Linked DNA regions of Homo sapiens. The protein of the gene in region 2 purifies or fractionates together with the protein of the main gene of each other region. This does not show direct contact. Each region holds a gene or a part of one and is shown on either strand. Other genes may lie near its edges.

Evidence for each region. Proteins that work in one complex are often made in the same cells at the same time.
Region 1: the proteins of SLC6A5 (region 2) and GOLGA5 purify together in Homo sapiens (affinity purification with mass spectrometry; 2 studies listed by BioGRID and IntAct, with this or other methods). This does not show direct contact.

The regions. Positions count from the first base shown.
Region 1 is NC_000014.9:92,811,305-92,818,304, reverse strand, and holds part of GOLGA5 (golgin subfamily A member 5), read right to left. Parts: intron 6,755-7,000; coding exon 6,551-6,754; intron 2,055-6,550; coding exon 1,884-2,054; intron 1-1,883. UniProt on the Homo sapiens protein: Involved in maintaining Golgi structure. Stimulates the formation of Golgi stacks and ribbons. Involved in intra-Golgi retrograde transport.
Region 2 is NC_000011.10:20,594,944-20,602,677, reverse strand, and holds the start of SLC6A5 (sodium- and chloride-dependent glycine transporter 2), read right to left. Parts: upstream 3,071-7,734; 5' UTR 3,006-3,070; coding exon 3,003-3,005; intron 1,550-3,002; coding exon 1,013-1,549; intron 1-1,012.

The DNA.
Region 1 (7,000 bases), on a different chromosome or scaffold from region 2:
GTGCTCTGTGCAGTATCTGGAACATACGTGCTCAGTAAACAATAGCTATTGTAATTATTTACAATTCTTTCATTTTGTTAGACCTAACACTTATTATACATTGCATAAATTTTGAGAAGGGTAAGAAAATGGGTCAATGTCATTAATGATGCTGATATATTAAATAAAACAAGTATTTTTCATAATCTCACCAAAAAGACATGAACAGATATGAGTAAGTTTAGCATCTACCCAATTTCTAAGTTTGCAGGACTGAATTCTTTGGAATTCAAATTCACAGATTAAAAAAAAAATCCTACTTTAATGAATAACAATAAACCCAGAAATAATAGCAGCTATTATTTAACTGAGGGTCTATTACATGTCAGAAACAATGCTAGGCTCTTCATATATTATCCTTTATTGTCAAGAGAACCTTTGTTTACCTGCATTCTATAGATGAGAAAATTAAAGCTCCGCAAGATGAAGTGCCTTGTGGAAGCAGCATCTGTTAAGTACCAAAGACAGAATCTATCCACGTCTGTCTGCTATTCAAGTCTATGCTCTAGACAAGGTATCCTATTCTCACAACTTTCACGCTTTCTTTTGTAGTTCACAAGTCTCACAATGTGCAGAGTTAATGCATGGATGAACATTCTCTACAAAAAGTTTCTTCCTTTTAAGAAAAGGAAGCTCGTTATGCTGCACTTTATCTTCTCTCACCTTCAGAGACTCCTTCCTACGATATTTATGTCAAAGACCCCGAAGTTTAAGCAAAATAAATGGCCCAACTTTACTTTTAAATATAGTAATTATACATAAACTATAAATTATAAGAATAAGGATAAAACTGTAATTAGAAGATCATCCCTGAGCCCATACTAATATTAGAAAACATCTCAGCTTCACATAGGAGCTCAAATCTGATTTGCTTTTAACCACTAGAATGTAAGATCTATAATTATGAAGACCCTGTTCTAATTCCAAACCTAGGCACATGGCAGGCACTTGGTAACTATTTGTTGAATGAATTGATCTGTTTTTTATCACCATAACTTTATGGTCAACTTATGGATTAGAAACCTGGTCGGGCATGGTGGCTCACGTCTCTAATCTCAGCACTTTGGGAGGCCGAGGTGGGCGGATCACTTGAGGTCAGGAGTTCAAGACCAGCCTGGGCAACATGGTGAAACCCCATCTCTACTAAGAATACAAAAATTAGCCAGGTGTGGTGGCGCACGTCTGTAATCCCAGCTACTCAAGAGGCTGAGGCAGGAGAATCCCTGGAACCTGGCAGGTGGAGTGGAGGTTGCAGTGAGCCGAGATCACGCCACTGCACTCCAGCCTGGGCAACAGACCGAGACTCCATCTCAAAAAAAAGAAGGAAAGAAAGGAAAGAAAGGAAGGAAAGAAAGGAGAGAAAGGAAAGAAAGGAAAGAAAGAAAGAAAGAAACCTACTGCTTTAGCCCAGCACGGGCTGCAACAGCCCTGCAATCCCAGCACTCTGGGAGGCTGAGGAGGGACAATCACTTGAGGCCAGGAGTTTGGGACCAGCTTGGACAACACAGGGATACCCTGTCTCTACAAAATATAAAAATTAGCTGGGCGTGATGGCATGTGCCTGTAGTTCCACCTACTTGGGAGCCTGAGGCGGGAAGACTGCTTGAGCCCAGGAGTTCGAGGCTGCAGTGAGCTATGATCACACCACTCCAGGCTGGGAGACAGAGCAAGATCCTGACTCCAAAAGAAGAGAAGAGGAAGAGGAGGAGGAAGAGAAGAGAAGCGAAGCGAAGCGAAGAGAAGCGAGAAACCTATCGCTTTAGTAATGCTGTTTCCCCACCTCTCAAACTGTTAACACCTGAGGGTAAATGGTGTCTACTAAGCTGAACCACCATGAATCTTACCTGTAATTCGGATCTGAGCTGATGTATCTGGCCCATCAGCTTCTGTATTTCCTCCCTCTGCATCTCTTTCTCATGCCGAAGTTCTTCCAGCTCCATGCTACTGGCAGTGCTGCTATCTAGGCCTTCAAAACCAGAGCCTTCTTTCAAGCTGTTAATCAATTTTTCCTTAGACTATTATAAAAGAAGAAATATGTTTAAGCAAAGCAGAGATTAGTTTGTATATTGAATATCATCTACTATACAGAAAATAACCCACTAAAAAAAATTCCATTATCTCCATCAAAGAAAGTCCACAGATTTTCTTAAATCCCTAAGGATAAAAAACACAACAGAGCCTTGCTGTATAATGTCCTTGGACTTTAGCCCCACAATCATGGTAAAGTTGAAAGCTTGTTATGAATAAGATTTTTTTTTTCCAGCTGGGTGCGGTGGCTCACGCCTGTAATCCCAGCACTTTGGGAGGCTGAGGCGGGCGGATCACGAGGTCAGGAGGTCGAGACCATCCTGGCTAATATGGTGAAACCCCGTCTCTACTAAAAATACAAAAAAAATTAGCCAGGCATGGTGGCAGGTGCCTGTAGTCCCAGCTACTAGGGAGGCTGAGGCAGAAGAATGGCGTGAACCCGGGAGGCGGAGCTTGCAGTGAGCCGAGATCGCGCCACCGCACTCCAGCCTGGGTGACAGAGCCAGACTCCGTCTAAAAAAAAAAAAAAAAAAAAAAAGATTAAAAAAAATTTGTGTTTATTTATTTGAGATACGGTCTTGCTATGTTGCCCAGGCCGGTCTTGAACTCCTGGCCTCCAGGAATTCTCCTGCCTCAGCCTCCCAAAGTGCTGGGATTGCAGGAGTGAGCCATCACACCTGGCCAAACAAGACTTTTCTCACATTTTCTTCTCATAGTTTTTATTTTCCAACACATTCTACCCAACAAGTAAATGGTGCTAAGTGTTCTGCGCAATAAAGATAATGTCTCTCTCTATAGATAGTACCCTCTGCCTTACAAACTAAAAGAGAAGTTACAAGTATCCAGCAGAAGGCAATCAACACAAGTAGAGAAAAGGATATGGTCAGATTACTTGCAGAGTTCTGAGAGGAAAAACCACTTCTGGGTAAGAGGAGACTTTAAGAGAGCATAAATGTTGGCCTTGAAATATGGGTAGACTTTTTTAAAGTGCAGAGAAAAACAGAGAGCAAAGCATAAAAATGCAAAAGCACACAAAGTCTGTAAGAAAATAATGTGAGATGCAGCTCAGATAGTATTTTAGCACCAATTTGGAGGGGCTCCTGATCTCAGGCTAAAATGTTTTAATATTATATGGCAGGCTAAAACAAATTACCAAAAAGTAGAGAGAGGAGTGACATGACTAGAGATGCATTTTAGGAGGCTAACCTGGCAGTGCTATGAAGAAGGTGCTCACAAATGATGGTCCGTGGGCCTGTTTTTGTACAGCCTGCAAGCTAAATTTTTTTTTTACATTTTAAAAGGATCATAAATAATAAAGACAAAGAATATGTGATGGAGACTACAGGTAGCCAACATAGCCTACAATATTTACTATTTGACCCTCTCAATGTTTTCTGACCCCTGAGATAAAAGATGAGTTTGAAGAAGAGATTTGACATGCAAAGACCAGTTTATAAAGTCCTAATTCTAGACTAGGAACAACAAGGACCAGCAGCTTTCACGTTAAATTAAAATATTTTAAAGTCATTCTCCTCCATCAAAAATAATTTTTCCTTTTCTGGGTGGTAGGATTATGGGTTATTTCCATTTCCTTCTTCAAACTTCTTTTGTATTCTTCAAATTTTCTATAATAAACATGATCATTTATAACATTTTAAGATTTTTTTTAATAAAAAACCAGAAACCTCCCAACCTCATTCCCCCATCTAGCTACTGTCCTCATGTCCATGGTCAAGTACCCTGCCTCCATGTCTTCAGCTCCCAGCGCACCCCGGAACTCTCTGTTGAGAGGTCCCCAGGGACCTCCTAGTTGCCAAGTCCAGGAATTTAGCTCGGGACTTGTCACATCAGAGCCGCGTGCTGTGGTTGGTGATCATGCACCACTTGAAACTCTCCCTCTGCTTGGCTTCATTGGATGGCATCAGTCTCCTCCTGGTTCTCTCCAATCTCTGACCACTCACCTTCTCAGTATTTTTCTTTTGCAGGCTATCCTTTTGCCCAATTTGTAAATGCTGATGTTTAAGACTGTGTTTTTAGACCTCAGCCTTTCTCCCCGTTAGGTTACACATCGCTCTTGCCTAAACTTACCTACTCTCCCAACTTACTTCTAATTACCTTTCTAACATTGTCACCTCAATGTTGCATCAATTTTGCATACTTACCATAATTCGTCATACTCTCCTTTAACCCTAACCTGTTCTCTTTCCTGTTTCCCCTTTTATTAACACAAGGAAACATCATTCATACACTTAAACCAAAAACCTGGAGTCATCCTGGATTCCATTTGCCTTTTTCCCCCATCCTTCCAGTTAAATCTCCACATGTCATATATTCTATCTCCCACATATCTCTTAGCTGTCCCCTGCCTGCCATCCTCACTGCCAAAAACTTTGATCAGGTCCTCATTATTTCTTATGATCACCTCTTCACCATCTACATGCCATTGATGCCACCCCTTATCACTTCCATGTTTTCAACAATGTACCGAATACCAGGCACTGTGCTGGGGATACAACGATGAACAAGACAGAGGCCCAAATCTCCCCTAACCTTTTCATCAGGCTGCCACAGTTCTCACACTCAAACCTGACCATGGCTTCTGCCTGCCGTTGAACTTTATGAGTCTTTTGCCTCCCATCTCTGAAGACGTTATGTTCCAGCAGTATGGAACTAGCTGCAGTCCCTTAAATATGCCATGTTCTCTCTGGCCCCCTTGCTCTGGCACAGGTTGTTCTCTCGGAAATCTCTTCCCTATCATGAGTCTTCCTATTCATCTTTCAAGTTTCTCTTTATACCACATCTCCTCAGTCCAGTGATCTTTGACAGCCTCAGGCAAGTTTTAAGGGATTCTTCTCTCAAGCTCCCATTGTACTGCATTAATAACCTTATTACGTCAATTATCTGTTTCTTTCCACTAAGATGAATGTTTTCTTAAAGGAAGAGGACACATCTTTTGAGCTTTGTATCCTCTGTGCCTAGTGAGTAGTTAGGTGCTCAATAAGTAACTTTTCAATGAATTAACAAATTAGGGTGATACAAAAAAGTACTTAGAAAGAAGAGTTTGAGGAGGAGATCAATATGATACTTCATGGAAGTAGCATTAAAAAAAGGTATTCATAGCCATTAGAAGTTTGAGACTAAAGAAAAAAGGTAAAGTCAAAAATGACCCTGAGGTTTCAAGCTTTACTGCCACATGGCAGTAACGTTGACCAGAACAGAAGAATGAGGGAGAAGTTGGTCTGGGAGCTGAACACTCCATGCCTGCACAGTAGGCAGCTGGGCACTGAGGTCAGGAGGTCAGGCTTGGAAACATGCTTGAAGTCATATGCAGGCGGCTATTAGAAGCAGAGGCAGCATACAGCAGTGCAAGGTAAGAAAGGACAATGAAAGAGGGTTCAGGACAGAGCTTAGGAGGACTCTGACTCTTTGGAGATTGGGAAGAGCGCCCAAGAGAGACAGAAACAGCAGTAGAAGAGGACAAAAAGAGAGCCAAGGAGATGTGAATAGCATAGAAGGCAGGAGTTCCAAGGAAGTGGGAGGGTTAACAGAGCCAAATGTTCTACCAAAATACAAGGTATGGAGACTAAGAAAAGGACAGAGAATATTTATTTAGGTCATCAAATATTTTTGAGAAGAAATTTCAGACATGTAGTAGGAAAAGAAGGAGATAAGAGTTAACAAGTTCTACAGAAATGAAGACAGCACGTACACAATTCTGGTAAGCATGACACTGAAAGAAAGGAAGATAGGGAAATAGTGCAAAGTGGTCACAAAGCTAAAAGAGACTGTTTTTCTCTTAGGCAGGAGTCCGAGATCTAGTCTTCATTTTTCCACTAAATAACCATGTGCTCTTGAGTAAGCTGAGCCAGAAGGCAGCAGCAGCAGAGAGGCACACACAGGAAGGAAGGGCATAGATCTATGGAGAAAGGGCTTACACATGAGATGGGAGATGGAATCAATGCACAGGCAGGAAAATGATCCTAGAAAAAAATGAAAGGACATGTTTTCCCTCTGAGGGACAAAGGAAAGAGAATTCAAAAACGACATTAGATGACTGTAGTCTTTCTTAGTAAAGTAGAGGGTAAGATCACCTTAGATCTGAAGGAGGGGAAAAAAAGCTGGGTGAGACAATTCTGAGAACTGGATGAGTCCTAAAGCAGTTGCTGCAAAAATTCAATAGGAGATCAACAAGGAAGAATAAACAGCTGCTCAACAACAAGCATTAATATCATCACAGTGAGTAAGGTGACAGGTTGAAGACCTGAACTAGGCAGTGGCAGAATGAATTTTTTTTTTAAAAGAAGTGGTAGGAACAAGAAACACTGCATCCTTTAATAAAATTTCTAAAGTAGAGTAAGGCACCTAAAGCTAGCCAATCAGACGAACATGAACAAAGCACCTCACACAGTATCTACACAGTCTCAAATTGCCTTTCAGTTAACTTGCACATCTTAACATCCAAAAGTGTACATTTCATGCTTACTTGCAGTATTCTAGTAGCTTTTTGCTTGTAGTCAATTAATTCCTGCTTAGAGGACTCCAAGTTCAACTTATACAGCTTGACTTGCTGCTGCAGTTCATCAACCCTCTTCTTCTCATCTGAGTATTTTCTTTCGGCCAGTGTAATTGCTTCTGCTAAATTCTGACGTTCCATTTCCACTTTATTAAGGCGTGCAGCAAACTCGCTCTGTGACAAATTTTTATATCATAATTAATGATATCATTTAGCTTTGAAACATATTTTACAACCATCCATTCGGATATCTTATGGGATTTATTAGCTCAGCCAAACAACATAGTAGGGATGGGAAAAAATTCTTAATTTGTTAGGAGCTAAAGTATAGGAAATGTAAAGTTGTAACTCCCAAACATGGCAATGCATTAAAATCAACCAGGAAGTTTGTTAAAAATATAGCCATCCAAGGCCTTTCCC
Region 2 (7,734 bases):
ACTAAGGATAGAAGGGTTGTATAAATCCTAAACCTCACACAGGCACAAATTTTGGTCCAGGCCCCACTGCTGGATATATGCATAGCCCCTGAGGCCAGGAAAGGAGAGGAAATAGCAGAAAGGCAGGCAGTGAGAAGGGAAGAGCTGAAGTTGATGAAAAAGGACAGAAGAAAGAAGAGATCAGAGAAGGAAGGAGAGAGACGAGAGGGAAATTGAAGAGAACAAAAGCCTATATGAGAGAGTGGGCCACCAGCAAAAGCTGCCTTTATTCATAACCCAAGGATTGGGATTTGCTCTGTGGGTTTTTCACGCCTCTAATTAAGTAGTAAAGGATCAAATGCAAGAGGGGATTAAGATTGGTGGGGCTTGAAGCTTATACAATTGAGGGAGGTTACTTTAGGGAAAAAAATAGAAAATTATGGCAAAAGTAGACACCAGGTTTTGGAAGGACCCAGGCAAAGGACAGGCCCCAAAACTAAAGCTTCAGTAGCCTCAGGTAAACCCACCTCGCATCAAATGAGTTCTCATGTAATAAAGGTAACTGGCAGTGTAAAGGCTACAAAACTTAAACTATTATCCTCCTACCCCTCCATCCCCAGCCACCACCACGTGGCTTTGTTCTGAATTTTAACCCTCTTTTTGTTTAATTAAGAAATTATTTTTGAAAAGAAAAGACAGTCATTGGCAGGAGAGGGAGTCTGTCTGCATAAAAGGGTGGAATCTATCTTCCTCAACTCTTTCGTGGATCTGGACCTGTATTCCCGCTACCGCCAAGGCTGGGAAGGGGCAGGTCGTGGCCCCTCTGGCAGGGTCACTGCAGCCCTCGCGCCCTGAACTGCCGACCCCAGCGCAGTGCGAGCTTCCGAAGCCCCAAAGCCGCCTCCCGCATCCATCACCTGGCACTGCCAACCGGTTTCCCCATCAGCATACGTGCACCCGCCACGGCCCGGCTGGCCTCTCTCGCGCAGCTGGAGAGCAGGACACTGTGCGGGCCGTAATGCAACCTGCTTACCTGGGTGGCAACGGTGGCCACGCTGCCCGGGAGCACGGACGTGATTCCATCCGTGGCCAGCACCACGGTGCTCTGGCTCATGTTCACCCAGCCCACAACAGGGGTATTGTTCCGCTCCAGGGTGCCCTTGCCCACACTCACGTTCGCATCCCCCTCCGGGCCTCGCAGAAAAGGGATCTTACAGTGCAGCGCGTTGCCGGGCCCGGAGCTCCCGGGAGGGGGCGAGGCCTGCGCGCCTTGCGCCTCTCTCAAGTCCCGCAGAGCTGCAGAGGCCGCCTGCGCCCGCGGGCTACTGAGTTTGCAAGACCCCACTCCTGGCCGCTCAGCCTCGCAGGCTCGCGCGTCCGCTGACTGGAAAGTTTGGGCGCCGGTGGAAGCGGACCTGGGCACACGTGGCGGCGGCGGGGCGGCAGCCGCGGGAAGCTCCTGCTCCGGGCTCGTCCTGGGAGCGCATGGGCCATCCGGGTGGCCCTGCGCCGCCGCCGCCTCCGGGCTGTTGGCTGGCAGTTTATTCATTTCCTTGGGAGCACTGCAATCCTGCAAACACAATGTCAAGTTCGTGCAAAACAAAGTCACAACAGCTTTTAAAATACCTGTATCTAGATATGGAGACGTTCGCAACTCAGGTCCAGACACAATATCTGGGGAAGCAAATTGGAATCTGAACTTTTTTTAAAAGAAAGGCTGCAATCAGTATTTCTCAATTTGCCCGTTTCATCAATAACCAGATGACAAAAAGAAGCTAATATTCCCTCCCTAGTGGAGGATGAACTAAGAAAAGAGGTAGAAATGTAATTTTGTAAGGGTAAAGGGGGAATGGAAATAGCCCTGGAGTCATGAGCTCCCCTCCCTCTTTGGATTCCACATCACAGCTGTGGGTGCCCGCATCCCCATCACCACTGTAGAAAGATTCTTTAATTTTCCGCCCCATTTCCTTTGTCATTCAACAATGCACACTGCCTTTTTCCCCCATAGACAAGCTGTGGCCACAAAGCTGATGCCCTGGCACCTGCGAGCGCTTGAGGCCAAATTGGTTGAGTCCCAGCGCTCCACAACCCACCTCCTCCCGCCAGGTAGCAAAGACAAGGTTAAGAATCACGATCAAAATAACCACAAAAAAACCTACAACGATAATAAACTAAATTTAAGACACAGAGTAGTAACTAGATTTGTTATCTTACACAACTCGTATTCACTTCCAGATTCCCAGACATGGAAAAGAATATGCAAAGCTTTTTGTTCTTTTGTTTAGGTCTTCTTCTTCTTCTTCTTCTTCTTCTTCTTCTTCTTCTTCTTCTTCTTCTTCTTCTTCTTCTTCTTCTTCTTCTTCCTCTTCTTCTTTTTTGCGTAACTATTCACAGGAGTCTAATATCCTTCACAACTCTAAGCTTGCTTGAGTACCAAAACTCATGACTAATTTTTATTCGCTTTTTCCCAATTCACTTTCAAATGAAAAGAACTGCCAGCGGTGGTTTTTCTATCCACTTTCTCCCCTCGTGTTATCTTTCACGGCTTCCTAAACATTAGCACCAATAATTATTATTACACTGTAAGAATAATCCTATTATCTTCGCCTCCACCGCACTCCTCTCGTCTAACCCCCTTTCACAAACACGCAGAATAGAACTCCTCGATTTGCACAAATCTAGGTACCTCGGCTTCAGCCAGCATTTGTCTCAGTAGCCTCTAGGACCCAGAGCAACTCGCCTCTGTACCGGCATCTGGCTTTTCAGCACCGAGGACAGTGCCCGGGATCGGGTCTTTAGGAGCCACAGCCAACCTCTCAGCTCTACAGCCTAGGAAACCTCTTTGCGACCTCAGGTGACGCTCACAAGTACAAATACCTAGGGCTGCGAGAATTGTTCTCCTCGTCGCCCCCTTTCCCCCCACCCAATGCACAGACATCTCCAAAAGAAATAGCCAAAACGAATCTGCTTTCCCTGTCCCCTCAGCCCCCTTTCCTCTTGAAAGAACAAAAGCAAACACTCACCATGTCTGACACAGGCAACAGACTGAACTGGTGGAGGGTGAAACCCGCTATTGACAAGACTGGGTTTGGCTCAGGCAGGAGAGGCGCTTTCTATATCTCCTTGGGAAAGGCCGGGTTTGCGTCAGTGCAAAGCAAGGTGCCCTTGGTTTGACATTTTCTTGATAATACAAGTTTGATAAATCATTACCCCCTTGGATTCAAGTTTTAAAGGGACAACAGCCTAGAGTATGCTGGCCAGTTGTCACTCCAGCGGGAGGGGGCTGCGTGTTTGGCGTGACTCATGTGGTCTGATTACTAAACCGAAACCGGCAGGAGGGGAAGACAGAAGTTTGCCTCCTCCTAATTAAGGGAAACATGGGAGGGACACGTCCCACTGCACCCAAGGCAAGGCGCAGCCGCCAACAGAGTGGATCGGGCTGTAGAGGAGGAAGGAGGGGGTTAAATCACTGTCTATTCTTTCCCTTTCACTAGATTCCATTGCTGTCCCCCCTTATCTTCAGGGATTCCGAAAATATTACTCCGAAAGAGGTTGAGGGTCTGCGCATAGCCCCACAGCTCTGCGATGACTGAAGCAGGCATGGGTCCTGCATTTATCAAGGTGTACCTACCTAGCATGTATGTGGACTTCAGATTCTCACATCCCTACCCTTCCAGACAGTCAGTCTTGGAGGAATCCTGGGGTTTTTGCTTAAAAATTGTGATCTGGTATTTCCGTTCCTATTTCTGTTATCACAATCAAGAGAAAATTCTGAGTATAACTGACCTTTTTCATTGTATTTTTAAGCTTTTCTGAAGACGTTTTAGAGAAAGAAAAACGAAGTTTTTCCAACACAGACCTAGTTCTTAGGTCACTTTCAAAGTCAAGGGAAACCCATTCTTTCTTTACAGTCCTTTCAATAAAATCCTACAAGAGCCAGGCCTGATTTGGCAGCGCGGGACCTTAGAGACCGTCCAAATCGGGATGCCCAGCAATGCGGGGGAGGGGGAATGAGAGCTGGCAATCTGCAAAGCCATGCCAGGATGTTCAACCGTACTGTGGCGGGGATGGGAGTGGGGGTGGCCATGGCGATAAAAAGATGGACTTTCTTGTTGTGTGTACAATGCAATAGCTATAATCAGAAGAGGAAAAAACGCCTTTACAAAGAAGGTGTAGTTTGGAGACTAGAAGGGGATTATCAGCAAAATGCTTCCCTTCTCTCCTTCCTTGCCGGTCTAGCTCGGGGAACCCCTGGCCTCGGGGATGAGGAGCCACAGACAGCACGTTTTCCCTTCCCTACTGCCAACAGCCCAGCCCACTGCCTCGGGGTGCGCGCCGTCGCCAGCGGCTGGGCCGTCCCACGCGGCGGGAGGACAATGCCGCGGCGGCCGCGGCCGCAGGCGTAGGCTGCAGTGGCAGATTGCGGCGGGCGCCGGGGGCACTAAGGGGCACCCTCCTGCTCCTCTGGAGAGCCCGAGAGTGTTTGGATGCCTCCGCTGGTTGGCTTTCCCGCCTAGCCCCTCTAAAGGGCAGCTGGCTGGGGACACACGGTCTGCATTGCCTTTGGTGGGGGCAGGAGGAGGAGATCTTTCTTTTGAGACGCCTTGAGGATTTCAGGTCGCTTTTTATTGCAGTTTTGAGCTAACGTCTATTGAGATCTCAATACTCAACCATTGTGCAAGGGATATCCATGAATTATCTCGGTTAGATTTAGCAATGGCCTTTCAGAAACTATACCAATTGCAAAGCTGAGGAAATTGGGGCTCAGAAAGTCGCTTTTGAACCCTGGAGAAGATCCCAACCACCTCCCGCCGGGCTGTCGCTAGGGTCAGTCGCTCTCTCCCCGGGGCCCGCTCGTAGGGAGAGGTCGGGAACGAGGGTTAAGAGGGTAGGGTGGGCTGTGGTGGACTCTGGCTGGAGGAGGGTCGTCTGAGTGGGTGGGACTGAGAATTCCGCAGGGGTGCCTGCTCAAGTTCCGGCTGGCGCTGAGAAGCACCCCGCAGGCTCTTGGCATCTTGGGGGACGCCAAGGGGACCTACGAGTGTTTCTGCCTAAACAGTCCCCAGTTTCCGAGAGGGCTCAAGACGAATGCGAGAACTGTAGAAGGCAGGCCTGGCAGGCAGGCTCGGGCTCAGAGAGCGATCGGCCGGAGCGGTACCACGAGGCGGGCCCAAAGATCGGTGTAGGCCTCCCTCTGCGGTTCCCCGGCCGACTTCCCCGAGGGACAGTCACGACTTTGGAAGGTTCTGGCCAGTTTCCCAATTTGCATTTGAGCAGCCCCCGCAAAGGGCCAGGTGCGAATGGAGAGTCTACGCGGCGCCCGGACGTTCCAGGGCGCACAGACTTGGCTGCCCCGGGAGGAAGGGAGAACTGCGCAGAGTGGGCAGAATCCTGCCGGCCTTCTCACTTCCCCCAGCTGCGGCCCTGGGCCTGAGTGACGCCCAGCGCCCCCGCTCAGCCCCCAGGCCTGATATTTCGCCCGCTGGCCCTCCCCGGCCCAGTGAGCACTTGGGTTCCGGCGTGGAGACTGCCGCGCGTCAGGCTCTGCAGAGGCGGGTGACGCGCAGGAACGGCTGCGGGGTTTGGCTGAGGCGCTATTCGGGCTCCCCGCCTGCCCCCACTTTCAGCCGCAAGATTCTAGAAGGGAGGGGCTACGTGGAGAATGGAGGGAGGGTCTGGAACGGAGAGGCCTAAGAGGGTTCGCTATGAGGCCAACGCTGGGACGGAGGGGCGGGCATCAGCAGGGCTTGAAGGTTGGGCTTCAGGGGCGGGAGAGAGCATGCGGAGGCAGGAAGCCAGGCCCTGGGGCAGCAGGTCGTGCGTATGGGTGTGTGTCAGCGCCTACGAAGCGCAGAGGATGGAACCGCAGTATTAAAAAACAAAAACAAAAAAAAAGAAGAAGAAGAAGAAGAAGACCAGCCGCACGTCCTCTAGACGCGGGCCTCCGCCCCCGCCCTCCGCGGACGCCTGTTTATAGTGATAATCAGGCCCAGCGCGCCGCAGCCAAGGAGGCCGTAAATCCGCATCCATCACCGCGCAGCCATTCGGTCTGAATTAGCCAGTCACTACGGCCTTAATTACTTTGTCAAAGATGAAAAATAGTAATTGATTTTGTCCTCGATCACTTTGTTCCCTCCTCTCCTGCCTTGCAGATAAGCAAATAAATATTTTTGAAAACTCGTGTCCACTCGGTTGTATGGGGGTAGCCTTCTGAAAAACAGGCCATCCGGTGACAGTCCTGACGCCAGTGTTACTGCCAAGACACGAAACGCCAGCTGCAACCCAGACAGGAGAGGGCCCAGAGGGCGGCCTACCGCATTCAAGTCGCTGCCCTCCTTTGCACTAAGGAAGGAGAGAGGAGGGAAAGATACCGGTGTTTTACAAGCTATTGCTCTGGCGTTAGCGGGGCACTGTGGCACCAGCCTCCTCTGGTCCTCAGGGCAGCATGCAAGAAAGAGCTGCCAGTGCGACTGACAGGCGAAGGAACGTGTCCAGGGTCAGAGGGCAGAGCCTAGCTTTGAGTCCCTGTCTGTGTTGGCTCCTCTCCATCCACCACATGAGGGATAGAGTATGAGCGCCTATGTCTATGTTTATGTGATTTTAACATGGGAGTCGTTAACACCTACAACTTCCATAGATGATGGATGTGAGGGCTCAGTGTGGGTTTCAGGTGACATGGCCGATAGTCAAGAAGCCATGCCGTATTTTTGTCCCACTTGTCTACTACTGCCCAGCTCCATTGCAGTGTTGTTCTGTGCTAAGAATGTGGGCTCTGCAGACACACTGCACCACTTCCTAGCTCTGTGACCTTGGGGGAAATTCCCCATCAGTAAAATGAGCATAATAAAAATTAACCTACCTCGGCCGGCGCAGTGGCTCACGCCTGTAATCCTAGCACTTTGGGAGGCCAAGACAGGCGGATCATGAGATCAGGAGATCGAGACCATCCTGGCTAACATGGTGAAACCCCGTCTCTACTAAAAATACAAAAAATTAGCTGAATATGGTGGCACGCACCTGTAGTCCCAGCTACTTAGGAGGCTGAGGCAGGAGAACAGCTTGAACCTGGGAGGCGGAGGTTGCAGTGAGCCAAGATGGCGCCATTGCACTCCAGCCTGGGAGACAGCGAGACTCCGTCTCAAAAAAAAAAAAATTAACCTAACCTCAAGGGTGGCCTGAGGATTAAACGAAAGAACGCATGCGAAGTGCCTAGATTGAGATTGGCTACCCGGCATACTTTCAATAAGCTATTGTTAACAATATTATTCAGTCTAAAGGAAACATATGTTTGAAGCCTCTCAAAATTAGCAAATAAGACAAATCCCTCTCCCTGGGTCGGAAGGTTTAATATGGGTAGACTTATGCAGAATAGAAAACCTTACAAAATACGTAATGATTGTGCAACATTTTCCCTCCTCATCCAGTGTTTGGTCGCCCAATAATCAAGTATTTACCTTTACTAAATGAAAATTAGGAGCATCCAGGAAAAGTGCTCAAATACAGAAGCTGCTATGAGTTTTTCCTGAGGCACTTTTTGTTTATATGAAGGTAAATTTCAGTATAAAGAAAGGACAGAAGCTTGGAGCTTCATAATCAGCCTCACTGTTCAGTTCTCATCTGAACCCAGGGGTGTCAGGGAAACACAAGTTAATCAAAGCAAGCATCCCTCATCATAGCATTTCAGAAGAGCTCATACTTGGAAATCAATGGTTCAGCTAAATAATCAGTCTGTGCAAAATGCAGGTCCAAAATTCC